4 separate regions of the Homo sapiens genome follow, and all the other regions are linked to region 1. Evidence: fine-mapped expression QTL. A gene starts in region 1. Each other region holds a variant in brackets. All regions are shown on one strand. Distances are from middle to middle. Region 1 holds the start of KDM7A-DT (KDM7A divergent transcript). Region 2 has its middle 48 kb from the start of KDM7A-DT. Region 3 overlaps LOC107986854 (a long non-coding RNA gene). Region 4 overlaps KDM7A (lysine demethylase 7A).

Evidence for each region. PIP is the estimated chance that this variant, and not a neighbour inherited with it, causes the effect.
Region 2: its variant is fine-mapped to the expression of KDM7A-DT in whole blood (INTERVAL, PIP above 0.99).
Region 3: its variant is fine-mapped to the expression of KDM7A-DT in whole blood (INTERVAL, PIP above 0.99).
Region 4: its variant is fine-mapped to the expression of KDM7A-DT in whole blood (INTERVAL, PIP above 0.99).

The regions. Positions count from the first base shown.
Region 1 is chr7:140,173,360-140,181,465 of GRCh38, forward strand. KDM7A-DT (KDM7A divergent transcript) reads left to right here and starts at 3,902. Exons shown (of 1, transcript NR_024451.1): 1 at 3,902-6,281. KDM7A (lysine demethylase 7A) reads right to left here and starts at 3,624. Exons shown (of 20, transcript NM_030647.2): 1 at 3,385-3,624. The coding sequence starts at 3,578. RefSeq lists silencers at 2,353-2,632, 2,643-2,822, 3,463-3,562, 3,603-4,032 and an enhancer at 3,257-4,180.
Region 2 is chr7:140,220,875-140,228,980 of GRCh38, forward strand. No RefSeq gene overlaps it. Among named protein-coding and RNA genes, the nearest start is that of KDM7A-DT, 48 kb to the left of the region's middle. The variant C/A (reference allele first, on the strand shown) is at 3,143.
Region 3 is chr7:140,233,278-140,241,383 of GRCh38, forward strand. All of the region lies in intron 1 of LOC107986854 (a long non-coding RNA gene), which reads left to right. Among named protein-coding and RNA genes, the nearest start is that of KDM7A-DT, 60 kb to the left of the region's middle. The variant A/G (reference allele first, on the strand shown) is at 4,160.
Region 4 is chr7:140,144,774-140,152,879 of GRCh38, forward strand. The region is part of intron 1 of KDM7A (lysine demethylase 7A); the gene reads right to left. Among named protein-coding and RNA genes, the nearest start is that of KDM7A, 28 kb to the right of the region's middle. The variant C/A (reference allele first, on the strand shown) is at 3,871.

The DNA of each region.
Region 1 (8,106 bases):
TGACAGCATCAGACCTGGAAGACGCTGGTTCCATCCACCCTGCAGCCTGACAGAAAAGCATCAAGGACAGGTCTTCCTTCCCTGTCACAAGAAATTAGGGCAACAACTTTTCAGATTTCCTTATGTCAGAAACGCCAGGCAGAATAAACTAAAATTTATATATATCAAAATGCACTGATTCCTCAGTTTAAAAAGTCCTTCTACTTAAAGAAATAAAGTTAACAAGAAATTACCCAGGCAATGGCAATTCTCTGTATCCAACCTCCTACTCCTCCTTGCTCCTCTACAGATGGACCACCTCTGGTCCAATGAAATCTAAGCATGGTAAAGATACATCTTAGTCCTTTAGGGGTCAATTCTCATGGAAGCAAATGATATTTGTTTAATAGTTAATATAAAGGAACATTTTGCTGTGTTCCGAAAAACGATCACTCATTTTATGGTACAGTAAACATCAGAGTAAATACCACGGGAAAAACATACAGAGTCCAAATTACCAATACTTAAGAATTAAACTTACTAGGCCGGGCAGGGTGGCTCACACCTGTAATCCCAGCACTTTGGGAGGCCGAGGTGGGCGGATAACCTGAGGTCAAGAGTTCGAAACCAGTGTAGCCAACATGGTGAAATCCCGTTCCTACTAAAAATACAAAAATTAGCCAGGCGTGGTGACGGGCACCTGTAATCCCAGCTACTCGGGAGGCTGAGGCAGAAGAATCACTTGAACCCGGGAGGCGGAGTTTGCAGTGAGCAGAGATGGCGCCACTGCACTCCAGCCTGGGTGACAGAGCGAGACTCCGTCTCCAAAAAAAAAAAAAAGAAAAAGAAAAAGAATTAAACTTAATAAAAAGATACTGCTTTTGTAGGGCAGGACAATATAGCTAAATTTTCTAACTTTTGACATCTGAACCACATAAGTTTCAAGGATTGATGGTCAAAAAGACCCTGGGCTCAAAAAAACCTATTTTAGACTCACTTCCACAGATATAAAGTTACACAAATTTATGTGTCAAAGCAGAGAGGGCATATTTGTTTTGGCCTTGCTCTCCCTCCTTCCCGTAAGCCCTCTGTATTTCCTATTTCCCTATTTACAAGTGTATACTTACATGTATTACAAAATTCTCCATCAAATACCTGGGGCTTTTCATGGTTATAGTGTTAAGTGACCTAAATTAAGATAAATACAATTCTAGTCTAAAATTTGGTAGCCTATCAAATCCGCATTGCATAATGAGACAAGTTTCTTTTTTCTTTTTTTTTGAGACGGAGTCTCACTCTGTCGCCAGGCTGGAGTGCAGTGGCGCGATCTCGGCTCACTGCAACCTCCGCTTCCCGGGTTCAAAAGATTCTCCTGCCTCAGCCTCCCAAGTAGCTAGGGTTACAGACATGCACCACCACGCCCAGCTAATTTTTGTATTTTTAGTAGAGACGGGGTTTCACCATGTTGGGGTTTCACCATGTTAGCCAGGATGGTCTCGATCTCTTTACCTCGTGATCCACCCGCCTCAGCCTCCCAAAGTGCTGGGATTACAGGCGTGAGCCACCAAGCCTGGCGAGACAAATTTTTATGCAGTTTAAACCGCCTCAAATTTCAAAAAATAGTTCTTTGAAAAAAAATAAGCATTTACATAATCACCAGGGATTCTGATTTTATTCTATATAGAACCTAAATGTTCGGATAATCTTTATTCTAGTTGCGTAGAATATGTTATGGAAACAGGATGTGGAAATAGAATTGGATATACAAGACTGCTAAAGATTATACGAAACGAGGACGCTGCCTTTCTTTTAAAGTGATAATTTACTGTGTCTTGTTTTCTGTTGTGAGAATCGGCTAGCCTGAAAACTGATTAAGTAAAACTGTACTTGAAAATTAAGTAAAACTTAACTACACCTAGCACTAAACACTGCAAAGAACATTGTGATTTACATGGTTTTCTCTCCCTGGACCAGTAGAGGGAGACTAAGACATCTGGCCTGGTCTTGTAGTGTTTCTGTAAAATTGGGGAGGGGGGGAGCGGAGGCTGTATTTAAATGTCCTGCTGTCAATCAAAAGACACTTCCTACAATCACAGTCACCATATCTGCTATTACTCGTGAGCGTGCTCTCGCCAAGAGACAACACCAAACGGGGCCCGGGAAACCGGCTTCAACTAAAGGTGACCGCAGGCTTTGCCACAACACCCAAATAAGGACTTTGGGAGCCCAACCCCAACTAGTTTCTTTGTTTAAATGCCTGTGAATCCCTCCCACGCCGGAGTCAAGAGGCTGTGGCGCCGCCCTTTATTAGCCTCACACTTTGATTACAAAACACACGAGTCGGCGGCCTGGCTGCGGAGGCGGCCCGAGCTCTCAAACGTCAAACCCGGAGCGCGGCGGCGGCTGAATCAGAGGGCAGCGTCCGCCGCCGCCGCCAGCCGGCCCCGCAGCGTCCGCCCGGCCGACTCAAGTTCGCCGGCACCGGCGCCCGGGCACAGCCGCAGGCGGTCCCGGTGTCGCCAGCTTCGAGCGATGGCAACTGCACTCTTTGTAAAGTTTAAGCCGCGGCGCGAGGGCAACGCAGGGGGTCCGGAGAAGCGTTCCCTTCGGGCCGCCGCAACCCACTCCATCTGCCCCAGTCCCGGCGACCCGGGTGTGTGCGGGGGCCCAGGACCGCGACCCGGGTCAACCTGCCGCCCGCCGGGGGCCCGGCCCCAACTTCCCCGGCACCTTTCAAGTCCCCGAGAGCGAGTGCCTCATCTGTTGCTCTGTTTACTCCGCGGAGCCCCGCCGAGCTGGCTGGCGCGGTCGCCTCTCCGGCCCGCCGCTGCCCCCGTCCCACTGGCCCAGGAAGTTTGATAAAGACGGGGAAGGGGGCGCGACAGGGACCCGCGGCGCGGAGGAGACGCGGGGCCGGGGCGACCCCATCGCCGCCCGGAAGGAAGGCAGGCGCGTCGGCCGGCCGGGCAGAGCGGCGGGGCGGCCGGCGACTCCGGCCGGAGCCCCGGGCGCGGCGGGGCGGGGCGGGGCGGCGGCGGCCCGGGCTGGCGAGGGGCTGCGGACCCGGCCGGCGCTCCGCCCGACGCCCCCGCCGCGCCCGCCCGGCCGCGTCCCCTCGCCCCAGGCTCCCCCTGCCAACTTATCCGCCGGCCCTCTTTGTTCGTGTTTGTTGTGGCGACTCTTCGCCCGGGCCAGGCGAGCCCACCGGCTCCCCTCTGGAGCCCGCCCGGCGAACCCGGGGCACCGCGCGCCCCACTGCCCGGCCGGGGGGCTAGGCACCGGGGCCCCCTGAAAGCTGGGCGCGGCGCGGCGGCCCGGCCCGAGGGAGGCGCGGGCGGCCGGCGGCGGCGGCGGTTGGTCGGTGGCCGGCGGTGGCGGCTGCGGGGCTGGAGGGGGTTTATTTACCTGCCGTGGAACCAGTCCTTGCAGATATCGCACTCGATCATGAAGCGGTTCACGTCGTACGGCTGCCGGCACACACAGTACACGGGCGGGGGCGGCGGAGGCGCCGAGGCCCGGCCGGGAGCCGCCACCGACACGGCTGCCGCGGCGGCTCCAGCTGCTGCTCCCGCGGCCACCGCCGCCGCCGCTCCGGCCATCTTTAAAAAACACACACACGCTCGCTCGCTACTCCGCTCGCCGACTGGAGCGAGCGCAGCCGCCAGCCAGCGCCGCCTCCTGCAGCAGCCGCGGCGGCGGCGGCGCCTCAGTGCGCGCGCGCGAGGCCGCGGCGGCTGGCGGAGGGGGAGGAGGCGCGCGCGACGCGCGAGGCCCAGACTCGGCTGCTTCCGGCGCTCGGCGCGGGGCCGTGCGTCTCGCGCACGTCTCTGGCGCCGGCGCGCGCTCCCCGCTCCTCTCCGCGACGGCCGGGCGGAGGGAGCTGTTGAAGGGCACGCAGGCGGCTGCGGGGGCGGAGGGAGCTGAGGCCCCGTGAGGACACGCGCGGTGGTGGCGGTGGCGGCGGGCGCGCGGCCGCAGCCGGAGGAGGACGGCGGGAGCGTGCGAGGAGCTGGCTCGGTTATTTCGGAGCGAGAGCCGAGGCCGGGGGAAGTTCCTGCGGAGTGCTCAAGGGCAGAAGAGGTGCCGCGTCCCGAAGAGGGGAAGCGGAGAAGTTTGCTGCTGCCCGGGTCGCCTCGCGACGCTGAGAGAATCGCCCAGCCCTCCGCAGCCGCCCAGCGAGAACCGGAGCTGCGGCCCCGCACCGGCGTGAGTCCAGCTGAGCTGACACGCCGAGCCGGTTGTGCCTTTCCGAGGGAGGAATGTGCCGTGGAATCCAAACTTTGGAAAACGTCCCACCCGAATTCCCAGCGAGCAGCAAGGAGACCAGAGCGTCGATGGAGCCACCGTTAGTTGCGGGAGGGCTGTCCCCAAGAGGAATTCATCACTGTCGTCCGCTGGGAGGGACCAACCTTGAAATGGGGTTGGTGGAGAGAGGGATAGAGAAGAGCCGGCGTGCTTATAAATAACAAAACTTAGCTATGAACCCTTCCGATTCCCAAGTGGGGAAGATGGGGTAAAATTCTAAGTGACTTCTCGCTCCGAAGAGGGATACCACAAAAAGCGGAGCGCAGGGTACTTGGCGTATAATAAGCCATCAATAATTTATGGGTGAAATTGAGAGCCAAATATAAGATGATAAACTGAAGAATAAAAACAGCTGACAAATACTGTATAGAAAAGATTGCGTTGGAATCATAACTGTGGATTGGAAGTGATGTTAAGGATTATTGGATTGAGTATTTGTAGCTGAATTTCTGCTGGCATTTCTATCAGTGGGGAAAGCCCTCACAGCTCCATAGGTAATTTTTGTTAGGGGAGGAAGAAGTGTTGTTCTGTCACCCACCCCCAGGCAAAGAGTCGCTGATCTAATTCTCCATTTCTTTCTTTCTTTCCTTTCTTTCCTTCCTTCCTTCCTTCCTTCCTTCCTTCCTTCCTTCCTTCCTTCCCTCCCTCCCTTTCCTTTCCTTTCCTTTCCTTTCTTTCCTTTCTTTCTTTGAAACGGAGTTTCGTTCTTGTTGCCCGCGCTGGAGTGCAGTGCAGTGCTGTGATCTCGGCTCATTGCAACTTCCACCTCCCGGGTTCGAGGGATCCTCCTGCCTCAGCCTCCCAAGTAGCTGGGATTACAGGCGCACGCCACCGCACCCGGGTAATTTTGTATTTTTAATAGAGACGGGGTTTCACCATGTTGGCCAGGCTGTTTGAACTCCTGACCTCAAGTGATCCGCCCGCCTCGGCCTCTCAAAGTGCTGGGATTACAGGCGTGAGCCACCAAGTCCTGCCTAATCTCCTTTTTATAGTTGAGGAAAGCTAGTAACTTGACTGAAGTCTCATATATTAGAGCTGTAACTGAAGTTTTTAAGTGTCTCAATTCTGCAACTATTCGTTTTTCTATCACATCACTGTTTGGCATATATATAGCGGGAAAAGGAAAGGCTGGAAATTAGTTGACCACACACTGATTAAGCTTGAAACATATTTCTACTGGAGAAAAAAAGGTACTGTAATTTTGGCATAGGCATCACATATTGCTGGAGTGGAAAGACCCATGCACTCAGGTCCTGCTTTCTATAATCTGTGACCTCGGGCCAGTCACTCCATTTCTCCTGAACTAGATCACTGATGATCTGTTGAAAGAAAAAATATGGCTAGTAATGCCTTAATTATCTCACAGAGGTTTTACATGGAGCAAAAAGACAATGTATTTTTAAATGTACTTTGTTGAAGGTGTGTGTTGTCGAGACAATACAGCAGTGAAGAGAAGGCATGCAAAGCTGTCTTGTTGGAGTCTGGCTAAAGAGCACCAAAGCAGCCTGTTGTGGGATGTCCTCTGGGGGCCACCTGGACTTGCTATGTTAACATGGAGGGACTAGGCAGGGGTATGAAGAAGGAAGCCCAGCAGAGCAGGAGGCAGCAGCAACAATGAGAGATTGGTTATCCATATGACTTGGATCTGTGTCCCCACCCAAATCTCATGTTGAATTGTAATCCCCAATGTTGGAGGTGGGGACTGGTGGGAGGTGACTGGATCATGGGGGTGGATTTCTTATGAATGGTTTAGTACCATCCACTTTGTATTGTCCCCGTGGTAATGAGTGAGTTCTTAAGAAATCTGGTCATTGAAAAATATGTGGCACCTCCTCCCTCTCTCTTTTGCTCCTGCCCCGGCTATATGATGCAATTTGTCTTCAGCCATGATTGTAAGTTTCCCGAGGCCTCCCCAGAAGCTGAGCAGATGCCAGCATCATGCTTCCTGTACAGCCTGCCTTCCATGAGCCAATTAAACTTCTTTCCTTTACAAATTACACAGTCTCAGATATTTTTCTCTTTTTTTTTTTTGAGATGAAGTCTGGGTCTGTCGCTCAGGCTGGAGTGCAGTGGTGCGATCTCAGCTCACTGCAACCTCCACCTCCCGGGTTCAAGCAATTCTTAGGCCTCAGCCTCCTGAGTAGCTGGGGTTACAGGTACCTGCCACCATGCCCGGCTAATTTTTGTAATTGTAGTACAGAAGGGTTTCACCATGTTACTCAGGCTGGTCTTGAACTCCTGACCTCAGGTGATCCACCTGCCTCAGCCTCCCAAAGTGCTGGGATTACAGTTGTATGCCTCAGATATTTATTTATTTATTTATTTATTTATTTATTTTTATTTATTTTTCTTTTTTTTTTTTTTTTTTTTTTGAGACACAGTCTCACTTTGTTGCCCAGGCTGGAGTATAGTGGCATGATCTTGGCTCACTGCAACCTCCGCCCTCTGGGTTCAAGGAATTCTTTTGCCTCAGCCTCCCAAGTATCTGGGATTACAGACGTGCACCACCACAGCCAGCAAATTTTTGCATTTTTAGTAGTGGCCAGGCTGGTCTCGATTTCCTGACCTCAGGTGATCCACCTGCCTCAGCCTCCCAAAGTGTTGAGATTACAGGTGTGAGCCACCGCACCCAGCCCAGATATTTCTTTATAGCAACGAAAGAACAAACTGATACAGTTGTGTACAAGAGAACTGATCAAACGCAGTCGTGTTGGCCAGACGTGGTGGCTCATGCCTGTAATCCCAGCACTTTGGGAGGCCCAGGCGGGTGGATCATGAAGTCAGGAGATTGAGACCATCCTGGCTAACATGGTGAAACCCTGTCCCTTCTAAAAATACAAAAAATTAGCTGGTTGTGGTGGCACGCACCTGTATTCCCAGCTACTCGGGAGGCTGAAGCAGGAGAATCGCTCAAACCCGGGAGGCAGAGATTGCAGTGAGCCAAGATCGCGCCACTGCACTCCAGCCTGGGCTACAGAGCAAGACTCCATCTCAAAAAAAAAAAAAAAAAAAAAATACAGTCGTGTTGCTTAACAACAGAGGTAAGTCTGAGAAATGCATCGTTAGGCAATTTCATCGTTGTGTGAACACCATAGAGTGTACTTACAACCGTGTTTGGTATAGCTAACTACACACCTAGGCTAGATGATGTAGCCCATCACTCCTAGGCTATACACCTGTATAGCATGTTACTGTGCTGAATTCCATAGGGATTTAGAACACAATGGTAAGAAATTGTGTTTCTAAATATAGAAAAGGGAGAGTAAAAATATCACATCATAATATTATGGGGCACCATCATAATATGCAGTCCATCATTGACGGAAATGTCATTATGCGACACGTGACTGGCAATGAGTTAAGGAAAATGGGAGCCAGGTTTCTCAATGTTCAGGAAGAGAATTACAAATAAGAGGAAACTTTGGTGGTGGGCTAGTAATGGAGGTATCAATCTATCACTATTTGTAGAAATAGATATAGGTGTATATGTACATACCCTGTCCATTGAGAGGATCTGGGAGTAGTGACACCACAAAACAATGAGAACAGCTAGCCCAGGTCTTGGCTTCTAAATACCATTCTCCACTTCATTTTTCTTCTTGGCAAAATAGTTGATTCCAGGACTGGAGAAGAGGGTACGGGATGAGCCTGGAACTTCTTGTAGTACCAGAATATAAGGACGTGCTCAAAGAATAATGAGGCATGTCTAAAGGACACCAGCCAAATCAGGGACAAATTGTACTTCAACATTTAAAAAAAATCATGTATTATAACCCACTGAATAATATAGGAAGCTATACCAGTGTAAAGAAATACATAAAT
Region 2 (8,106 bases), 48 kb after region 1:
CAAGACTGGCCTTTTTTTTTTTTTTTTTTTTAATGAAAATTTTGAAGCTGAAGAAAGTAAAATGACCTGCCCAGGGTTACAAAGAGAGCCTAAGTGAACTGCAAACCCCAATAACCTGTTTATTTCACAGCTACTAAATCCAGCTTTCTCTGATAGACTGCTGGCTGCTTAACCTAACCCAATACCAATGCGCCTTCTCCCACTTAGTAACAAACCCCAAATTTATTCTGAGTAACACTGCTTGCTGCCAAAGGACTAAATTTCCCAGCCTCTCTTCAATTTGGACTGGCCATTTTAAATTCTAGCCAAAGAGATGTAAGCAAAAATATAGTATGGTTCTTCTAGGAAGAACATAGGCCTTTCTTCTCCTTTTCCTCTGTCCTGCTGCCTAGAAGTCAGATGTGATGGCTGGAGCTCCAGCAGTCAATTTGGACCATAAGGATGAGACACAGCCTAGGGAATGCAGTCAGAAAACTGGAAAGAGTCTGAATAATGGGGACGCTGACATAATAGACCTCAACTATGTACATGAGAAACAATTTTATATATCTTGCTTAAGTTGTGATTGTTGCAGCTGAATCTAAACTAACTGGTACAAATCAGGAATAGCTTCAACAATTTTCTCTAAGCCTTAATGACAATCCTCAAATAGCCTGAATGCATCTCTGGGGCTTGGGAAGGTATGGCCAGCAACTTCCTGCTCACTCTGGAAGCCCCCGTGTGCTGTGTTTCCAGAGCCAGGAGAGGCAACATTGCTCAGTCCTTGGAGGACCAGGTCACACAGGTTCATCAGGGTTTTCTAAGTCTATGTTCTGGACTCTATTTCCAGAACTCCAGCCACTTCCTGAGCCTTCAAGCTGCTGTTTTCCCCTAACCCCAGAAAACCCCTGAGGTTGTGTAATTATGAACTCCAAACACGGAGCACCAAAAATCAACAGAAGTCAGGAAAAGAAGCTCCTTAACCTTGTCCAAAGAAGCTCAGTAAAAATACAAATAGTAGCTGTGAGTGAGGCAAAAACAAATCTGTAAACATAAACAGATTAGAGGCCGGGCATGGTGGCTCACGCCTGTAATCCCAGCACTTTGAAAGGCCGAGGTGGGCGGATCGTGTGGTCAGGAGTTCGAAACCAGCCTGACCAACATGGTGAAACCCTGTGTCTACTAAAAATACAAAAATTAGGCAGGCGTAGTGGCATGTGCCAATAATCCCAGCTACTCAGGAGGCTGAGGCAGGAGAATCGCTTGAACCCAGGAGGCAGAGGTTACAGTGAGCCAAGATCATGCCATTGCACTCCAGTCTGGGCGACAGAGCGAGACTCTGTCTCACAAAAAAAAAAAAAAAAAAAAAAAAAAAAGAGAGAGAGATTTGAATTCATTGAATTCAATAGAGATTTAAAAATCATTAGAATGGGAATCTTGAAACTTCAGTAAGGATTTTCCTGTTAAAAAACAACAAATTCGGCTGGGCGCAATGGCTCACGCCTGTAATCCCAGCACTTTGGGAGGCCGAGGCAGGCGGATCACCTGAGGTCAGGAGTTCAAGACCAGCCTGGCCAACATGGTGAAACCCCGTCTCTATTAAAAATACAAAAATTAGCCAGGTGTGGCGGCGTGTGCCTGTGATCCCGGCTATTCAGAAGGCTGAGGCAGGAGACTCGCTTGAATCTGGGAGGCAGAGGTTACAGTGAGCCAAGATCACGCCACTGCTCTCCAGCCTGGGCGACAGAGCCAGACTCTGTCTCAAAACAAAAATAAAAACAAAACAACAAATTCAACCTGACTGGAGAGACCAGAACGTGGGAGTCCCCCATTCGTGTCCCACTGATAAGAAGTGTCCTAGGAATCACAGCAGCTGGTGTCTGAGATCAACAGCCCCCCAGTCACTAAAGCGCTACCCTGCCTTTCACACTCTAGCCCCAGAGCTGGGAAGGGAGCACTCATGGGGACATTGTCCCTGTTCGCAGAGGGAACACGGCCGCTTGTCAGCGCCTTATCCCACTGTCAGGGCAGCTGGCTGGGATGGGAGGGGAGACTGCATGAACCCCCATATTTGTGAAACTGAGTAAAAAGGAAGTTCACTTCCTGAGAAGGGTGAACTAGTCAGGCATGACATCTACAATCACCTTGCTTATGAGGCTGCAACAGAGGGGTGCTTGTCTACAGAGGACGTTAGCTACACAGGCGACGGCCCTGGGCAGATGACAGCCACGCTTGCCCATGGCACTGAGCATACCATGGTGCCCGGTGACAACACTGGGGTCGAGTCTGGAAGCCCTAGAGAACTCTGCTTCCCAGGGCTGCTAACACTGACTGGGGAGGACCCTCTGATGTTACAAAAGCCAGAAAAGGCACCCCCGGTCTCTTTCACGAACCTGATTTCCCTGTAGGAAGTAAGTTCTTGCTTCTCTTAAAACGCGATTCCCAGAACTGAACATAATAAATATTTCATTCCTAGGACCCTAAATGGTCCAATGGGACCGTTACTTCCCCTGTTACTTTCTAGCAACGTGACTTCTATCTTCTGTGGAAGTGGGAAAGCACCTGACCTGGGGTCTCATTCCACTTCTGCCACTTAAGGACTGAAGCCTCTTTGAGATTCAGACTCTTTGGCTGTCAATGGGGGTAAAAATACCCTGCCTATCGCTGTGAATCATTCTGAAGGGAATATGCTCATACACCCAGTGTCCAGCAGTCTGGGGAGACGTGAGATCCCTTTGCACGGATACCCCATGTCACAACGATTCTGAGGCCCCTGATGAGCGCAGGCCCTCAGCCCCAGCCCTGCAGAAGTATTCCCTGGGTCTTTCAGGGAGTCCTCAAAAGGGTCCCCGACATCTGTTGAACCAATCAGTCCCAGTCATCATTGTATCCTTCCTCTGGCCTGTCTTCTGTGGCTTGAGGTCCACCAATACGAGCCTTGGGGCCACTACCTCTAAGACACAGTGCCCATGGGGCTGCCAGGCTCCAGGTCCGGGGCTCCGTTGGTGCTCTAGATCCCTACACCCTGCGTGACCCAGCAGTGCTGATTCTGTGCACGGATGGAGAAAATGCACCTTCCACCCTCAGCCACTCCGTTATCTCCTGCAAGCAACTTTCAGCAACAACTCCCACACCCTGCCAAAAAAACAACCACTGACAAAAA[C/A]ATCAGTTTCCACAGGAGTGAGCTCAGCCGTTCACACCTTCAGACAACATCTCCCCTGGACTCAGGACTGCCTCAGCCTGAATGCCTGATTAACACGCCCAAGCCAGAACTGTGAAGCCCCTCAGAGGGGAACAACAAGAGAGCACAGCTGCCTGTCCCGGAGGCCTTCATGAAACCAAAGGACTTCACCCCCACAGTGAACTGAAACATCCACCTCCAAACCCAGAAAACTGCTGGCCACTTTCAAAAGACACCTCCTCCTCCCTCTCAGGAGCTGGGCCACGCTGCAGCCTAAGGCACCTCTGTCCACGTTGGAGGAGGAGGCCAGAGGGACCACCTAGGGAAAAAAAAATAAAGCATTCAGAGTCAAAAAATACTGTTGATTGCAGTGTGGCAGAGGTGCTAGGGCAATGGGGGAACACATAGGTTCAGAGAAAATCAGACAAATGCAAAAAAGAAACTGCCATTAAGTCCAGAAGGAGAAAAGGGTTGTTTAATCACAGAGTGTTGTCCTAGAACACTACATGGCTCAGAGGTGAGCCATGCCCCCTCCTAACACTACATACCTCCTCCTAATAATGTGAACAGTTGTCATTTATTTCATAAAGTACTGGAATACAAGGATACAGAAGGGGGTATAGGAAGGAGAGCGTTTCCTCCGCTACCATGATTGGAAGTTAACAAGTAGTGTGCAAAGTCGAAAATCAAGAAACAGTAATGTGGCTGGACGTGGTGGCTCACACCTGTAATTCCAGCACACCTGTAATTCCAGCACTTTGGGAGGCTGAGGCAAGCAGATCACCTGAGGTCAGGAGTTCGAGACCAGCCTGGCCAACATGGTGGAACCCCATCTCTACTAAAAATACAAAAATTAGCTAAGTATAGTGGCGCACACTTGTGATCCCAGCTACTTGGGAGGCTGAGGCAGGAGAATTGCTTGAACCTGGGAGGCAGAGGCTGCAGTGAGCTGAGGTCACCCCACTGTACTCCAGTCTGGGCAACAGAGTGAGACTCCATCTCAAAAAAAAAAAAAAAAAAAAAGGAAAGAAAAGAAATAGTAATGTAAGCATATTGTTTAGAAAAATGGTGGAAAATACAAGAAAAATGGCTACAGAGTTGGCAGTGCCGGCCTTCAGGAAGACAGCCTTGGGGAACAAGAGGCTAAGCGCAATTGTAATTTTTCATTATACTTTTTATGTATTTATTCTACTTTGCTTTTTATAGCTATGTACATGTAGCATTCTGTTAGAGATAATTTTATATAAAACAAGTCCTGACCAGGCATGGTGGCTCACACCTGTAATCCCAACAATTTGGGAGACCAAGGTGGGCAGATAACTTGAGCCCAAGAGTTCAAGACCAGCCTGGACAACATAGTGAGACCTCATCTCTAAAAAAAATTTAAAAAATTAGCCAGGCAGGTGGTGTGTGTCTGCAGCCCCAGCTACTGAGAAACCTGGGAGGTAGAGGCAGCAATAAGTCATGATCACGCTGCTGCACTCCAGTCTTTGCAACAGAGTAAGACCCTGTCTCAAAAAAAGAAACCAAAAAAAAAAAAAAAAGAAAAGGAAAATGAAAGAAAACAGATTTTCTCAGCCTCTACAAAGGCAGGTTTCAAAAACCTCAGGGCTCTATCACAGCTAGAGCTGTCATCAGATACGTTGCCATGTGTATTACTTTGCTAGAGCAAAGTAACAAAGTACTACAGACTAGGCAGCTTAAACAACAGTAAAGCATTGTCTCACAGTTCTGGAGGCTGGACGGCCGAGATCCGGATGTCAGCAGGATGGGTTCCCTCTGAGGGCTGTGAGTGAGAATCTGTTCCAGGCATCTCCCTGAGCTGCTGGTGGTTGCCAGCAATCTATGGGGTTCCTTGGCTTGTAGAAGAAGCACCCTGATCTCTGCCTTCATCTTCACATGCCATTCTCCCTGTGTGCATATCTGTGCCCAAATTTCCTTCTTTAGTTTTTATTTTTATTTTTGAGATGGGGTCTCATTCTGTTACCCAGGCTGGGGTATAGTGGTGCAATCATAGCTCACTGTAGCCTTGACCTCCCTGGCTCAAGCAATCCTCCTACCTCAGCCTCCTGAGTTAAGCTGGGGCCACAGGCATATGACACTGCACCTGGCTAGTTTGTTAAAAATTTTGTATTCTCTGTAGAGATAGTGTCTCACTATGTTGCCCAGGCTGGTCTCAAACTCCTAGGCCCAATCGATCCTCCTACCCCAGCCTCCCAAAGTTCTAGGATTATAGGCAGGAGCCACTGCACCTGGCCTAATGGATCAGGGACCACCCTACTCCAGTATGAACTCATCTTAACTAATTACATGTGCAATGACCATATTTCCAAATAAGGTCACATTCTGAGGTACTGGGGGTAAGGACTTCAGCATATGAATGCGGGGGGCAGTAGCAGTAGGAGGAACACAATTTAGCCCAACAAACTGTTAAAACTGTGGAGTGTTATTGTCATATACTTTAAAACAAATTGGCCACCCTGCAGGTCCTGTGTCTTAACATGGCTGCCTTCCTATAATACTGACTGGTACACTTGCTCCCAGAGCTCCCAATTCAACTCTGCAACAGCCCCAACTCTCTTCATTTCTCCCTGAACACACACCCACTGAAAGGTACTCTTGCTCCCTCCCCTCAGCCCCCACATTAACACCTGTCACCCTGTGGTGCTGCTGTGCCTATGTCCTGATTCCTTTGCACAGATCCCTGCTCACTAATTGAGCCTTATCTCTTCTCCCTCTCCCATTGATCCAGCCAGTCCTTTCCTCCTTCTTCTTAGATCAGGGGTGTCCGATCTTTTGGCTTCCCTGGGCCATACTGGAAAAAGAAGAATTGTCTTGGACCACACATAAAATATATTAACAATAGCTGATGAACTAAAATAAATAAATAAAATCACACAAAAAAGTCTCATGACATTTAAAGAAAGTTAACAAATTTGTGTTGGGCCACATTCAAAGCTGTCCTGGGCCGCAGACAGCCCATGGGCTGGACAAGCTGGCCTTAGATAGATTGAGACCAGGAAGCCCCCAACTTCCCCCATAATAGAACTCGTAAACTGAATCTCAGCACAAAAGGATCATCCTCCAGTGGCTGAGTACACTAGAAGCTTGAGTCCTCTGCTCATGGGGCCACTTCCTAGTTGGGTAATGGACAACTTAACCTCCCTGTGGCTGTTTCCCTACCTGTAAAGTGGGACTAATAATAGTAACCCACATCATAGGCTTACATGACATAAAGCATGTGAATCTCCTAGCACAGTGCCTAGAACACAGTAGGTATTTAATAAATACCATTTGTTACTATTTTACTATTACCAGGTGTTACTTTTTATCTTCTTTCATTGAATCATGTCCAGAGCAAAGCAGGGCTGTGCTAGACCTCCAAACCGCCTTTGACTCAAAAGAGAGGCCCCCGCTGGGCTGGGCGTGGTGGCTCACACCTGTAATCCTAACTCTTTGGGAGGTCAAGTCGGAAGGATCCCTTGAGCCCAGGAGTTCAAGACCAGCCTGGGCAACACAGGAAGACCCTGTCTCTATTAAAAAAAAAAAAAAAAAAAGCTAGCCATGGTGGCTCACACCTGTAATCCCAGCACTTTGGGAGGCCGAGGTGGTGGATCACCTGAGGTCAGGAGTTCGAGACCAGCTTGGCCAACATGGTGAAACCCCATCTCTACTAAAAATACAAAAAAAATTAACCAGCATGGTGGCAGGTGCCTGTAATCCCAGCTACTTGGGAGGCTGAGGCAGCAGCATCGCTTGAACCCGGCAGGCAGACGTTGCAGTGGCCGAGATCACGCTATTCCACTCCAGCCTGGGTGACGGAGTGAGACTCTGTCTCAAAAAACAAAAGAAAGAGAGAGGACCCCATTGGGTCTGTGCCGTGCATCTCAGCTACCAATGCTTCCGCATCCTCCTGGTTCTGTCCTGCTAACAACCAACAGGACAGCTCAACCTGCCTGCTTTCCTCCTGGTCTCCCAGGGCACATCTGTCTCTGGAACGGCCCTCATCCCACTCTGCCTCACTCACACGATTCCTATTAGCCTCTTAACTCAGCGTGGTCTTCGGGAGCACACCCTTCAACCCAAAAGCAGCACTTTTAAAACACGTTTAAAAAGTGATTTAGTAAATAATGTTGATTTCTTTTGTGAAATTTTTAAAGACAAAGTCAAGTTACGTTACCCATGCCATAACAACGGAAGCAAAAACAGAAACCTATATTCCATTCCATTTTAAACTCAGGGACACCCAAGCACCCAGCTGAGGGCTCAGCAGCTTGTTTTTGCAATGTTCTACAGTGGGAAAGAAAGGAACAAAAAGCCTAGGAGTGGATCTCTAGAGAAAGACATTGTATATTTTGTCTGAAAGCATCTTACTCAGGAACTCCAGTTCCAACACCGTTTGGAGATGGTTCTAATCAGAGAAAAGCAAAACCCTAAAACATTTCTCAAACAGTTCTTCACGATCTGCTGCCTAAGACTCTTGTAGTACTTGCCACAGCAATATAGAGAACGTTTAAGCTTCTTATTTGTAATAAAAAGTGACAAGAGGCCAGGCGCGGTGGCTTACGCCTGCAATCTCAGCAATTTGGGAGGCCAAGATGTAGGGATCACCTGAGGTCAGGAGTTAGAGACCAGCCTGGCCAACACGGCGAAACCCTGTATCTACTAAAAAATACAAAAAAAAAAAAAAAAAAAAAAAAAAAAAGCCAGGCACAATGGCTCACGCCTGTAATCCCAGCACTTTGGGAGGCTGAGGTGGACGGATCACGAGGTCAGGAGTTCGAGACCAGCCTGACTAACATGGTGAAACCCCGTCTCTACTAAAAATATAAAAATTAGCCGGGCATGGTGGCGTGCGCCTGTAATCCCAGCTACTCAGGAGGCTGAGGCAGGAGAATCACTTGAACCCGGGAGGCGGAGGTTGCAGTGAGCCAAGATCACGCCAT
Region 3 (8,106 bases), 60 kb after region 1:
TTATTTTCACTAAAATAAAACTAAGAAATCGGCACTCAAAGTCAGTGGCTTACATCCTACACAACTTGTATTCCTATCAATGGATGCTATTTGCTTCCTTTTCATTTATCAGCCCTTGCTTTCTAGACCTGAGCTGTCCAGTACATTAGCCACTAGCCACATGGGGCCGTTGAGCACTTGAAGTCTGGCTAGTCCAAATTGAGATGTGTTGTATGTGTCAAACAAACATTGGACTTCAAAGACTCAGTAAGGAAAAAAATGTAATCATTAATACTTTCAACATTGATTATGTATTAAAGTATTTTAGATCTATTGGGTTAAGTCAAATAGATTATTACAATTAATTTCAGCTTTTTCTCTCCTTCCTTCCTTCCCTCCCTCCCTCCTTTCTTTCTCTTTCCTTCTCTTCCCTTCTCTTCTCTTTTCTTTCTTTTCTTTCTTCATCTCACTGTCTCCCAGGCTGAAGTACAGTGACACAATCATAGCTCACTACAGCCAGGAATTCCTGGGCTCCAGTAATCTTCCCACCTCAGGCTCCTGAACAGTTAGGACTACAGGCACACCCCACCGTCCCCTGGCTAATTTTGTTTTAGAGGTGGGGGTCTCATTATGTTGCCCAGGGTGGCCTCAAACTCCTGGCCTCAAGCAGTCCTCCCACCTCACCCTCCTTAATAGCTGGGACTATAGGCGTGAGCCACCACGCCCCAGCTTTCTACTTTTATTGCGTTAATATGCCTAGTAGGACATTTTTAATTACATATTTGGCTTGTGGAGGCTGGGAACATTCTTGATCTGGATGATAGAGGTATATGTTTGTGTGTGTGGTGTTGAAATTCATCAGACTGTGTCCTTAAGTTTTGTGTACTTTACTGCTCTATGTAAGTAAAAGTCAGTTTAAAAATTAAACAATACGGCCGGGCGCGGTGGCTCACGCCTGTAATCCCAGCACTTTGGGAGGCCGAGGCGGGCGGATCACGAGGTCAGGAGATCGAGACCACGGTGAAACCCCGTCTCTACTAAAAATACAAAAAATTAGCCGGGCGCAGTGGCGGGCGCCTGTAGTCCCAGCTACTCGGGAGGCTGAGGCAGGAGAATGGCCTGAACCCGGAAGGCGGAGCTTGCAGTGAGCGGAGATCGCGCCACAGCATTCCCGCCTGGGCGACAGAACGAGACTCCGTCCCAAAAAAAAAAAAAAAAAAAAAAAATTAAACAATACAGGCCAGATGCAGTGGGCTCATGCCTGTAATCCCAGCACTTTGGGAGGCCAAGGCAGGTGGATCACCTGAGGTCAGGAGTTTGAGACCAGCCTAGCCAACATGGTGAAACCCCGTCTCTACTAAAAATACAAAATTAGCTGGGCGTGGTGGCACGTGCCTGTAATCCCAGCTACTCGGAAGGCTGAGGCAGGAGAATCGCTTGAACCCAGGAGGTGGAGGCTGCCGTGAGCCAAGATCACACCATTGCACTCCAGCCTGGGCAAAAAGAGTGAAACTCTGTCTCAAAACAAATAAACAAGAAACCCCAGCTGGTGTAAACACAGAATGGAGTTTATTGGCTTGGGAACTAAAACGTCCAAAAGAAAATCACGCTGCAGCCAGGGTATGGTGGGGACCTGGATCCTTTTTTCTGTGATTCTCTGGGCACTCCCTCCATGGGTCACTGAATCCTCAGGCTGACCTCCCAGCCATGAGCAAAATGGCTGCAGCAATCCCTGGCCCCACATGCACATCCCACCCCATCCAGGAAGAGAGTTTCTTGCCTCCCATGCTCAAAAAAAACACTGGATTTCACCTAACCAATCATTTAGCCCAGCGGAATCTCACGTGCTCAATGGTGCATCCCTGAAATGTGCTGGTGAGCAGCACCCAGTCACTGCTAAAAGAACCCTGATTAGGCTTAAGCAGCTAAGGCCCCATCCTATACAAATCTCGAGGCTGCCATATATTTGGGAGATATGGATGGGTTCTGTGAAGTTGACAACCAGCAGTGTCTACTAGATAATCCAGGCAGTTGACAACCAGCAGTCTCTGCTAGATAATCCAACCAGTTGACAACCAGCAGTCTCTGCTAGATAATCCAACCGGTTGACGACCAGCAGTGTCTGCTAGATAATCCAACCAAGTTGACAACCCGCAATGTCTGCTAGATAACCCTACCATTGCAAGTCACTACCTACACCAGGGCTCAGCAAACTTTTTCTGTAAGGGACTAGTCGATAATGAGGCTTCATGTGCCTCCTAAGGGTTGTTTTGTTGAATTTGTTTAACAACCCTTTTAAAAATATAAAAACTATTCTTAACTCATGGGGCTTACAAAAACAGGCCAAGGGCTAGATTGGCCTAAAGATCATAGTTTGCCAACCACTGATCTGGATCGTTATGATACTTGTGATGTCTACATTGACCTTGTTAACTTGTTTCCCCTGACTATAATCAAAGCTCTTTGAGAGCGGGAACCAGGTCTGTCTTATCCACCACTGTCTTCTCCACACCTACAACAGTGTTGGCACTTTGGGAGGCCTAGGCAGGAGAATCACTTGAGCTCAGGAGTTCGAGACCAGCCTGGGCAACGTAGCAAGACCTCATCTCTACTAAAAATATAAAAGGTGTGGTGGTGTGTGCCTGCAGTCCAAGCTACTCAGGAGGCTGAGGTGGGAGGATCACTTGATTCTATGAGATTGAGGCTGCAGTGGGCCGTGATCATGCCACTGCACTCCAGCCTGGATGACAGAGCAAGATCCTGTCTCAAAAAAAACAAAAACAAAAATACAGTGCCAGGCACATGGTAGATGCCCAATAAATATTCACTGGATGAATGACTATGAAAACTTTATTCTAGAGCATATCAGGACCCAGTGCCTAGCTCTGACCTGGGTTTCTCTGTCTGTAGGACACAGCTGCCCCCATAGTGACCGACGCAGGAACGGACAGGGCTGCTGCTGGTCCACACAGTACCTTTGTGCAAATCAGAAAAAAAGGTTACTCCTGCTGGCTGCTGTAGCCCAGCACCTAGGAGCACAGTGAGTGGGTGAGGGCTGAATTTCAGCCCCTGCCTTCCCTCTTGGAGGGTGTTTTTGGGTGGGATACCTGCCCAGTTGCGTGTGCTGGCTCTGGGATAGAGTGCAGAGTTGGAGTTCTAAGACCTCACCTGCTTTTATTGTTCCCACACCTCTCTGAAAAATGTTTCTGATAGCACTCTGCCTACAGCTTTTACCCTTTTCTCTCACCAACTCCCAGTCCCTTCTCTTTCCAGTTGTTTTCAACACAATGACTGTGATTTGCATATATTAAACTGAAATTCTCATTTTGTGCTTGGAAATTCATCCAAGCAGAGTAGAATGTGGCATAAGAGAGACCAGCCTGGACAGCATAGCAAGACCTCATCTCTACTAAAAATATACAAAGTTAGTCAGATGGAGAGGGATTGTGGTTGGAGAGGGATTTCTGTCCTGTGTGCTTACTACACTTGAAGAAAGACCATGAGAAACTCAAAAAAGAAGCAACCAAATCGTCAAGGAAATAGTGAAGTTGCCGTAAAAACGCAAAGTCATGTGTTAAGGGTTCTTCCATTTGGGAAGATAAAGGCTAAGAAGGAAGAACATCTGTTTAATCATGGATGGTTAGGGTGCTCTTGAACTCATTCACTAAATCCTGAAAGAGAACCGGGGAGGGGGTGCTCTGCTTAAAGCTTGAGAGAGTTATATTTAGGAATAATCAAAGAAAATGTTCCTTCGCTTGGTGGGCGGTAGGGTCATGGAACTCATTATCCCAAGCAGGAGTCAAGCTGGAAATAAAAAGTCTTGGGGTACTTAGCTGTTGACAGACCCCTAATGACTTATGAAGAGGAACGAAGAGGCCTTGGGATATGGGCAATGTTCTTTGAAGTTGCTGACGAGGAGCATGACTGGTTGTCCATAGTGTGTCCCTGCATGCCCGCCTCAGAGACAGTTCTGAGCTGGGCAAGACGAGGAGCCAAGGCGGCCCCCACAACCCCTGGCAATCTGGAAGTTTGCCTTATTACTGGGGGACGGGGTAGGGGCCTCGTACAGGAATGCTTGGCTTTCCCAACTCAGTTTTCTGTAGGCCAGCTACCATCTATTGCTGGGAATTCGAGGGTCATCAAAACAAGGAAATGATGTTTGTGGATGTTTTACCTAAAT[A/G]TCTACACTATCCATGGGGACCTCGCCTGTTGTCATTATAGGAGCTGACATTTAGTGATTATGATTATGTACTACGTGCTATTATATGCATTTATTTAATGTTTATAGCAATCCTGTAAGGTAGGTGCTATTATTTCATCATCCTGTTTGACAAATGGGGAAACTGAGGCACAGAGCAGTAGCTCTTTCAAAGTCTAACAGGCAATAAATGATATAGGACTCAAACGAAGGCCGGAAGCCTCTGGAGTACATAATGGACTATTTCTCCATTAGACTGGGGTTATAGCCACTCCTATGGTGCTACCAGAGAGGACACAACTCCCCTCCAGCCATGTGGTACCAGGAAGGAGTGCAGGCCCATTGTGGCCATATCCACTTTTTCAAGAAAAGCCATAAGGATCAATACTGGGTGGATACAACAAATCTAGCTAAACACAGACTGAGGTCGCCCAGCTCTGATCGTTGCCGTACCCACACCACCCTGCAGCGACACATCTTATGGGCAGGGTGCTGTTGTCCACGTCCATGAAAACATGAGTTACCAGGCATAGGCTCAGAGCAGCAGGGAGCCTGGCTGGACACACACGGTAAAAAGGCTGCCAGGCCGGGGTGCCTGTGTCTAGAAGTTGGTCTCCTGCCTTTCAGTGGTGCTTAGTGATCTCTCTAGGCCTCTGGCCAGTCCAGGATTCTATGACTGTCATCGCAGAGAGCAGCAGCAAAGGCTGTAAGGTGTGGACAGATGTTTGACGTCTGGGAAGATGGGCTCTGTGGCATATAACCAGATTGTCCCAGTTGGCACATAAGCCACACAAAATGTGCAGAACCCAAGGCTATACCTTCAATTTCGTGTGTGCTGAGAAAACTGGCAGTGCAAGGGACCTGTGACATCCCGTGGAGACTTCATTCAGGTTGGGCGCTGCACCCCAACCACACAGGGAGGGCTGAGGGCTTTTTCTAGTTTGCACAAAGGCGCCATCTGTGAGCTAAGCTGCACATCATGGGTGTGCGTCCACCCGGAGGAGGGACCTTTTCCAACTCACATCAGGTTTCCTTGTGTCCCCAGGGGCCCTGAAGCAGTCTGGGGTGCTGCTGACCTTCCCCCACACCCCCACTGCTTTCTATTTATATCTTCCCATCTTTTCTACCATTCAGAGTGCAGGTGGGATTTAGGGGACCCAGGAATGCCAGAATTCTGCCCTAGCTCTTCCACCCCTTCCTTCCTGTGGGGTTCCTGGGGATTGGCACACACAGAGGATAAAGGCAAATGGCACAGAGCCTGACACTCCACTCGGGGCAGGGCTCTGGGCTGCATGGCACAGCTGAGGCTCGGAACTCCAGGATCCAGAGGTTCTCCCTTCCCTGGCCATGCTTGGGCCCAACCTGCCAGTGCTCATGTGGGGAGGATGAGGGAGGCCAGAAGGACAGGCTCCAAGAGGACCTTGGTTCGCCGTCCTTGTTCTGTCCCCAGAGCTGGAGGAGCCAGTGAGAAGAGCAAGATCCATCCACCCCCTGAGAGTAGGATGTGGGAGGGAAGGCCACACCTTGGCACAGACCTCATCACACAGGGTCCCCGCCCCCTTATACAGGTGGCTGAAGCAGAGTCCTGGATCCTGGCCAAAGGGATTGGCAGCAGCTCCCTAGAGGGAAGCCAGCCAGGGGCGGGCTTCTTGTCCCCTACGGGAACATGGTCTCATTTGATCTTCACAGCCTCCCTGTTTTACAGATGGGGAAACTGAACTGCATGCTAAACAAGGATGAGGAATTGGGTCTAGGTCACGCAGGTAGTAAGCAGAGCTGGGCTTTGATGCTGTGGCCGACTCTGCAGCCTCTGCCCAGGTTCTTCTTTGGGATACAACTGCTGACAGCTCACCGCCAGTCTGTTCCCAGGAATAGCCCTGCCTGAAGGGGGCTGCCTGGCCCAAGGGTGGCTCCTTCCTTGCGGGGCAGCCTGAATTCAACCGAACCATGTAGGGGTGAGATATGGGGAGTGGGGTGCAAAAACCCAGCCCCTTGCCTCCACTCAGGACAACTCCGAAGGGCTTTGTAACTCGTCATGGGATGGAGGGCCGGGCTTTGGTGGCAAGTGCATCACATTTCACCTTCTCCCTTGGCCCAGCCCTGCTCTCCTCTTACAGTTGCTGTGCTGAGCACATGCCTGGATCAGCCTCTGCGGGCATCTTGCCTATGCCATCTGCACTCCCCGTCCTTAGGAAGTGCTGCCTCACCTCCTTCCTAGGACCCAGGACAAATAAACCAAAGATCCAAAAAGTAGAGGGTGAGGCAGCCCAGAGGTTTACAACAGCAGTAAGTGACTGCCACCCCTAGGCTGGAGGGAGAGAAGGAGGGGGCGGGGTGCCTGTGTCTAGAAGTTGGTCTTCTGCATTTCAGCAGTGCTTAGTGATCTCTCTAGGCCCCTAGCCAGTCCAGGATTCTATGAATGGGGACAGAAGGAGGGGTCGGGCTTCCCTGCACCCAGGGATCACCCAGCAAAGCCAGAGCTATGGTGGGTTTGTCAAGGGGGGAAATGCAGCCCTTGATGGAAACACTCCTGAAGTTGGGGGCCCAGAGTGACACCCTGACTTCTCTCTTCCTTTCTGCTTGACTTTTCTGATGATAGACTACCTAACAATACGAGGTGTTGTATTGTTAAACTTTGCATACCAAGGTCTTAATATGCACATATATTTGGGTAATATTAAAGATTTCGTCAGCTTGGGGTCCATAATAATTTTTTTTTTTTTGAGACGGAGTCTCGCTCTGTTGCCCAGGCTGGAGTGCAATGGCATGATCTTCAGCTCACTGCAACCTCTGCCTCCCGGGTTCAAGCAATTCTCCTGCCTCAGCCTCCCAAGTAGCTGGGATTACAGGCGCCCACCACCACACCCGGCTGATTTTTGTATTTTTAGTAGGGATGGGGTTTCACCATGTTGGCCAGGCTGGTCTTGAATGCCTGACCTCAGGTGATCCACCTGCCTCGCTGTACTAAAATGCTGGGATGACAGGCCTGAGCCACCGCAATAATTTTTTCTTTTAAAAGAGAAACACTGCTGTAGGATGATATGCCAGAGGTGTGTGGCAAAGCACCGTCCACTCCAGCCCAGACACCACAGCCTTAAGGTCCAATTCCTTAAGTTTCCATTCCTTTGATCCTTTGGGATATGGGGGTGGGGAGCTGAAAACAGCCCTTAGGGCCAGAGGATGTGGGAGCACAGGAAGAGGTCCTAGAAGTTTCCTTGTCCACATTCCTCACTTTACTGAGGGGAAACCCCAGACCCAGAGAGCTCCAAGCTTGGACAACCCCTTTTATGGAGGGTGAACTGTAGTGTTTTGGGGAATCATCACTACTGAGGAATGGAGTCAGCGCAGGGCTTTTATTTTTATTTATTTAATTAATTTATTTATTTAGAGACAGAGTTTCCCTCTTGTTGCCCAGGCTGGAGTGCAATGGTGTGATCTCGGCTCACTGCAGCCTCCACCTCCCGGGTTCAAGCAATGCTCCTGCCTCAGCCTCCCAAGTGGCTGGGATTACAGGCACCCGCCACCATGCCCAGCTAATTTTGTATTTTTAGTAGAGACAGGGTTTCTACTAAACCTGTCTACTAGTAGAGACAGGGTTTCGGTTACACCTAGGCTAATAACCATTGCGCTCTGGATGGGCTGACCCTCACCGTGTTGGTCAGTCTGATCTCAAACTCCCGATCTCAGGAGATCCGCCCACCTTGGCCTCCCAAAGTGCTGGGATTACAGGCGTGAGCCACCGCGCTCAGCCAACTGCAGGGCTTTTAAATCTCAGCCTAGATGAGGGCTTGTATGTGCACGTGTGTGTTTGGTATGTGTGCATGTACATGGTTCGTGTGTACATGCATGTGGCATGTGTGCACATGTGTATGGTATGTGTGCGCCTGTGGGTGCACATGTATGTACGTGTATGGTGTGCATGCATGTGT
Region 4 (8,106 bases), 29 kb before region 1:
GGAGCCCGGTGTGAATTGTTTGGGTCATAGGGGCAGATCCCTCAGGAATGTCTTGTGCTGTCCTAGGGATGGTCAGTGAGTTCTCATGAGATCTGGTTTAAAAATGTATAGCACCTCCCTCCCACTCCCTTGTACCTCTTCTCACCATGAGAGCACCTACTCCCCCTTCGCCTTCTGCCATGATTGAAAGCTTCCTGAGGCCTCACCAGGAGCAGATGCTGGCACCACGCTTCCTGTACAGCCATAGAACCATGAGTCAATTAAACCTCTTCTCTATAAGTGACTCAGCCTCAGGTATTTCTTTATAATGATGCAAAAACAGCCTACTACAAAACCATTTAAACAGCCTAATACAAAACCATTCCTATGTATTTATGTGATTTTTTTTCAACAATGTTCACCCATGTGGTGCAGACCCAGAGCAGGAAATTGGATTCATCCAGAGTTGGGGTTTTTGTAGGTAAAGACCAGAAAAGGAGTTCCTGATATTTACAAGGGAATTAAAGGATGACCCGTGAAATGTAAGTGGTCAAAAAAGATGTGAAGACGGAAGGTAGTGAGAAAATGGTGAGATGATCTGAGGGGTCTTAATGGCTCCCAGCACTGAGTCCGTGGAAGGCCTTGAGCAACTGACCTATAAGGAGGCGAGATTATGCCCAAAGAGTAGAATGTTCAGAATCTGACATTTCCGAGGTAGCATCATCTATAACAGTGATAAGATCCAAGTGTGGAAACAGTGTGTGGCTAAAGGGCAACAAAAAGATCACTGCAGATAAGTGAAAAGATGCATGAGAGCTATCTCTGCATTCAATAAAACAAGTTCAAAACCAAACTTCCCTGATTTTAAATGCAAGGTTCATTAAGTGTCAAAAGAAATAGGTACTATACTCCCACCAAAACAGAAACTCAATGTTAACAGATGCCAAGTTGGCACTTTTTCTATAGAAACCCCTAGTTTGTCTTGTCTCACCTTGACCATGGCCACATTCCTCACTCCTAAGAAGTGACTGTGACACCAAAAGAATTAGAGAAAAAAAATGTTTAGATGTGTCCTGAAAAACCTAAACCAGCATATCATAAACTCTCCATGACATCTAAGATACATAAATCAGAATGACTCCCATGAGGGTTAGGGAAAAAAGGGGAGAAAGGGACATTTCAATTAGTTAAGAACACCTTGGGCTGAACATGACTATTAATCTTCAATGATGTATGAGTTCCTCTCTCTAGTGTCTACTTGTCATCCCACCTCACCCCATATAATCTGTTTTATGAAATGTCAGTGAAGGCTTCAGGTTTGGGCCAGTTCTAATCAACTGGTAAAACATTCATAGCTCCATTTATTTTGAAATTCAACACAACACAACAGTAAATTTGATATATCAATAAAAACATGAAATCTGGTAAACTAGTACATCTGAAAAACAGTCCATTTAAATTAACCATACAAAATACAATTTTAAAAAATAAAATTAAACACAAAAAGTTAACATTCCTAAACCAAGAATTATCTCAGGTCTTTGAAAGGAACCAAAAGGAACTACTGCCTACACTTCCGTTTCTCTCTCAGAGGGAGGCATAACTTCTCCCTACTCTCTTTATCACCCACTCCATCCTTCACTCACTGCCTCCCTACTAAAAAATTGCTAGAATCATGATAGCTATAACAGATATGTTAAGAGGAAATGCAGTAGGACACACAAAGAGCACAACTCTGAAAGCAAATTTTCTAAGGATCACTTTCAAACCTGGCACATAACCTTCTTTAGTCTCTTCCACTCACTTCTCTTGTAAAACTTTCCTTCATATATAGACTGTGACACTTTTTCCTAAAAGCAAAATGTTTAGCTTATTAGACCACTTTGTGTGTGAGGGCACAAGGGAGGTGTTTTCCTACAGGGTGACAATCTGACCTTTGCTGAATAGCTTCCATCTATAGAACAGCCTCACTGCCATTTGGTGAGTGGGGCAGTGACAACTTTAGCACTTTCCATTGTCTTAATCTTCTGAAATTGTTGCTTAGCTGGCATTTTTTTCTGACACTTGATGAGAACTGAATTGAATTAATGACTAACCGAAATTCCCTAGGATCAGCCAAACGTTCTCTTTTTTCCTCTCGGATAACACTCTCATTTATATTCTCTACTCTTGGTGTTAGAAGAGTGGGTGGCCAAATTCTTTCAGATCTTACTGTCCGTGGACTTCATTAGATATTCCTCTTGCTTCAGATACTCTCCCCATTCTTCACTGAATGATCTTACACTACCTAGTCTTCAAAGCCCCAAATTCCTCCTCCTTGATGATACTTTACTTGATCACACCACAGAAAGTCCTTCAACATTTTACTGATACACATTTCCTACCAAAAGGGTAGGAAAAAAAAAAACACATTTCCACTGACTTATGGCCTAACATTGTTTAATACTGAGCAATTTTTATATCCTATTCCCTGAACTGAGCTCTTTAAGATTTCTCTCTCAATACCAAGTACAAGATGATCACAGTAAATTTTTGTTGACTATTAACTGTGCTGCAAACTTACTTGAAAACTAATATATTGTGGCAAAATTTTTTAAAATTCTATTCGGTTTGAATTTTTTAAAGAATTTTCTTAAAATTCTTAACAGCTGGTAAAAACGGAAAGCTCTTTCAACATGTAAAGTACAACTTTCATCTTTCCTTAGACAGTAGAAGGCTGTGGTAATGAGATTTATATATCGGAAATTTTGCTTCAAGTTTTCACCTGTGTATCAGAAATTCACCTTCTCATCCAAAGCACCCAACTACTCATTTTCTTCACTGTGACATGTGACATAATCAGAGGACTGAGTCATTGTGTACCCCTAAAGTCCCACACTAACAAAGGAGGATGGGGAGTGGCCTTTGAGGTAAATTAACTCCGGGAATACAGAGGATAGCTGACAGCTTGCTCTGCATGTTTCCTTTCCTATCTTGATTCTGGGGTCAGTTTAGGTCTAGAGACAGCTATAGGAGAGGCAAGGTATCCTCAGTCTACTACCTCCATGACACCGGATAAACACATATCAACTGGCTTCAATGGGATGCATAGATTGTAGAATTAGAAAGACTTGATTTGATTTCCAGCTCTACTTGTTTTGACTTGGAGCAGGTTTCTCAATCTGCCTGAGGAGCAGGCGTTCCCCTGAGATTAAGCAGGACAATGTATGTCAGTATGTAAAGCATGGGACTAAGCCTATAGTAAGCAATGGCACAGTAAACATACTAAGTCATAAACAGCAGCTATTAATATTATTATCATGTCTCTACCAGGTTCCAGTCAGCCAACACTGCCCTAATCAACAGCGTATTAGCTACGAGGTTTGAGCCCAAATAGGAACTAGGCTTTTATGATTGGGCTTAGTATTTTTTTCTTCAATAAGGTCTCTTCAGAGCACACACCAGGCACTCAAATGGCTATGCTTCAAGAAAAAAAAAAAAAAGAGAGAATTTGTTTTCTATTTTTAATTAATTTTAGATGGTGGAGTTGAGAAAAATCTCTCTCTCTCGAGTCAGTCTGCCTGTGTTAGAATCCCAGCTACCCCGCTTAGTAAGCTGTATGACTTCGGGTAACTTACTTTACCTGTTTTTTGTTTTGTTTTGTTTTGTTTTTTGTTTTTTGGTCTCATCTGTAAAGATGGGAAATAGTAACAGTAACCCCCTCAAAGGATTTTTAAGAAAATTAATATACATAAAATGCTTAGAATGAAACTGTAGAACAATGGTTTTGTTGTCCAAAAATCTTACGTTGCTAGCCAGTAAAAATAAGGCTTATTAATTGGCTTAATAAGTTGACATTCTTACTAAAAATACTAGGATGCCAATAGGCATTTTCACTTTTAAATTGTTAAT[C/A]GTTTTATACAATGTTTTAACCCTGAGACAGATCACTTTATTACCAGATATCAGCTAAGGTAAAAATTTATAATTTGTATGAATTATTTCCAGTGAAAAATCAAACTGGTAATGTATGATTAAATTTGTGGCTCAGAAAAACCCAACTTCTATTATTTTCTTGCTGACATAAAACTGTTTTCACAAAATTAAATGGTTTCTTCATAAATTGAATATGGTATGTTTCCACTTTTGTGAAGATTATATAATTGACACATTAAAGCTGTTTAGTGGCATACTATATGCTTAAGGGGTCTGAAGTAAATGCATACTCTGAACCAAATTCCTTTGGTTCACAATCATCTCTTAAGGTTCACTTATGGTTCACTTTTCCTACCTCCAACAGCAGGGCTCATGCTTCCAACTGTCCCAGGGCTTCCAGAGTTATTTCCAACCAGCTGATTAAAAGAATCTATGATAATAAGGGTGAAGGGAGAAAGACAGTATAAAAAGGAACTGATCAAACAACATGAGAGGAAAATTAGGTTGAAGAGCCAAGATGTGCACTCAGTGGTACAAAACATACTCCCCAAAAAGCTAAAAATCCTGTTGACAAGCTTCTAATTAAATCTGTCCCACAATGAATATGTGAAATATGCACATCAATATGATTTGTATGGTGATACATTATTTGCTTCAAGTACATAAATGCTTGTTATTTTGCTCTTTACTGCCTGACATCTTGGACACAGAGTAACTGGCAATGCAAATGGTGAATGCATCCTTACAAATAAGCACAAATCATTATTTCATGAAGGTAATAATTTTTATTAGAATGTTCTAAAGAAGGAGGAGGTGCTTTACATTTCTGAAATATTCAAGAAGCTAACTATATTTACTTTTCACTGTCCTGTGGTGAAAAGGACAGTGAAATTCTCAAGTTAATACTCTCTTATTCCTCAGCCTACTTTCTGCCTACCTGGCTGGGTATGAGGAATGTCTACACAGACTAAAGAAATTAGGATACAAACAGTGCCCAGTATATCTGCTATTTTTGTGGAGATAAAGACTATTCTTTTATTTATAAACTGTGATACAGCAAATAAATATCATCCCAAAATGAATATGATGTGAGAATTTGGTAAGAACTTTGTAAATCATCTTAGGGAAGAAAAAACTTGCCATGATGATAAATAGTATCAATTTCATAAAGGTTTGCTTGGCAATGTTTTTAAGTTAACAAAGGCAAGAAGTATGCTATCTGTAATATATATCTGAAGTGTGTATATACATAACAGTATGTATGTGAAGTTCTACAACACATGTGAATATTTATATGCCTCTCTTAAATATAGGTATTAGAGTGAAAGTCGCGTAGAGAAAAATGATTCCTTTGGCAGAGCAAGTTTTATGGTGTAATTTACTACCTGCTTTCTGTCTTCTTCTCTATCCATTCCCACCTCCCTTAACACTAAGGAAAGGTGAAACAGCACTAAGCACCTTGAGCCCAGAGATGGAAAATGGGAAAACCTTCCTGTTTCTAGCAGCTTTGACCACCACACAGGGTCTCATCAATAAAGAAATATATACACCCTACTACTGTCACTATTTTTGACTGATGAATTCTACAAGAAGAAACATTATACAAAAACTTGTTAGTACCTAGAAGTACAATGAAATGTTTACTGAGTCCAGTTCCTCATGAAATGCAAGACATAAGGAATTAACACACTAAAAACTTTCTAAATCCCTTTAACACTCAGTCTATCTGTGGCTCCCAAACCTGGCTATGCATTAGAATCCCCTACAAGCTTCTATAAGCTTCTACACGGCAGCCTTTCAAAAGAATGATGCAGCTCTGTAAGTAGGAATATGGAAAGATCTCCAAGATACGCTTGCTGTAAAGCAACAAAAGCCAGGTGCGTAACAGTTTGTATGCGATCCCCTCATCCCTATGTTTGTAAATGCAAGGTATATGTCTGGAAGGGCATGTAAGAAATTGGTAACAGCAGTTGCCTCTGGGAAAAGAAAACTGAATGGATATAGAATGGAGAAGAGGAGAATTGCTTTTCACCATAGAACCTTCTCTATACCTTCTGAAATCAGCAGTGTACATTGTTTATTTTTAAAAAGAAAAACACATTCCTGAGCCCCACCTTTGCTCTACAGGGAAAGTTAATGAGTGTGGCCCAATAATCTCTGTTCTTTTTTTTTTTTTTTTTTTGAGACGAGTTCCACTCTTGTTGCCCAGGCTGGAGTGCAATGGCACAATCTCAGCTCAATGCAACCTCCGCCTCCCAGGTTCAAGCAATTCTCCTGCCTCAGCCTCCTGAGTAGCTAAGGATTACAGGCATGAGCCACCACACCCAGCTAATTTTTTGTATTTTTAGTACAGATGGGGTTTCACCATGTTGGCCAGGCTGGTTTCGAACTCTTGACCTCAGGTGATACACCCACCTCGGCCTCCCAAAGTGCTGGGATTACAGGCGTGAGCCACCGTGCCCGGCCACAATAACCTCTGTTCTTAACAAGTTCCCCAGGTGATTCTTTTGCAGCAATCTCAGCAGAGAAATGGCACTGAGGAACTATTGATCTAAAACTCTAGCATCATGGCTAGTGCGACACCAAATTTTCATAGGAAGTGACTTTCTATGAAAGCTTCGTTGGACTTTAAGCTCCTTAAAGACATGGGTAATATTTAATTCAGAATTTCCCATTGCCCACAGATCTACCTAAAGCTGATTACATAGTGGATTCTCACACAATATTTACTGATTGACACAAAGCAGGAATGCCAAGAACATCAGGGAGACATTCGCTTGGGCTACCATCTTGGAGCCCGTTTAAATATAAATTTTGCAAATATAAAGGGATAGAAAATGAATGTGAGGGGGAAAGTACAGAACTGATTATTTTTTTCTTTCAAGAATTTATTCTGAAATGTCCATACCTTTTTCAATGAAAAAGGACACAGTATTCCTGATTATTTAGGTTCAGGCAACTATAATCCTCTTGTACAGGAAAAAAGGTCTTCATTCATCACAAATGTATATATTATGCCCATTTACTTTTCCTTTCATGTAGTTCCTAAATGTCCCTATCTTAATCTGACATTTGGAATGTCAGTAAAAGAAGAAGACAAATGGATTATAAATGAAATAAATAGGATCTTTAAAAGATGAATGAATAAGCATCTGAAACTCTCCAATCCAGCAGACAGTTTTATTTCCCATTGCAAGTACAGAAGGGAAAGCTATATTTTCTAGGGCCTAATGAAACCTACAGAAGATTGAATATATACAGGAATAAAAGATCATACCTTGGGATAAAAGATAATAGCAAAAACATATATCTAGGACACTTAGTGATGAATCAACTACAATGGACAAGAGTCAACTAAGGCAAATCAAGTAGATCTAGTTTTCCTACTAACCTTTCTCATCTCATAAATAGTCTTCAGTGCCTGCATCTAAGGGGAATAAACACATTCCAAACCAAGCCAAGCCAAGAGAAAGCATTCATATTAAAGGCCTCTCTGCTGGAACAGAAACTAAGGCAACATTCTAAGGAGAACTTAATATCCTTAGTATGCTTTTTCATTCTTGATGAAAGACGAGTTACAGTAGGGGTCTGAACCACAAAAATCTTGACATAACTGGTAACAACATCCTACGTGGAAATTTATATATGACCCAGAGACCTCAAAGAATTTTAATACATGGCCAGAAGTGGTGGCCCACACCTGGAATCCTAGCACTCTGGGAGGCCAAGGAGGATGGATTGCTTGAGGCCAGCAGTTCAAGACCAGCCTGGGCGACAAGGCAAAACCCAACTCTACTAAAAATACAAAAGTTAGCTGGCCGTGGTGGGACACACTTTTAATTCCAGCTACTTGGGAGGCTGAGGCGTGAGAATCACTTGATCCCGGGAGGCGGAGGTTACAGTGTGAGCTGAGATCATCCCACTGCACTCCAGCCTGGGCGAGAGTGAGACTCCGTTTCAAAAAAAAAAAAAAGAAATCCAACACAATTACAAATCAGAAGTATCCATCAATAGCAAAATAGGTGACGCTGAGTTGCCAGGAAAGGTCAACAGCAAGCACTGGACCATTCTATTTCGAAACATACAAGTCAGGGCAATATGTAAAGTACATAAAGTGTAAGAAGGATTTTTAACCTATTCACATGTTGGATCCCTTCAAAAGATAATTTGTCATTATAGGTTCCTCAAAGTCCATTTTGTAATTCCTTTTTTTTG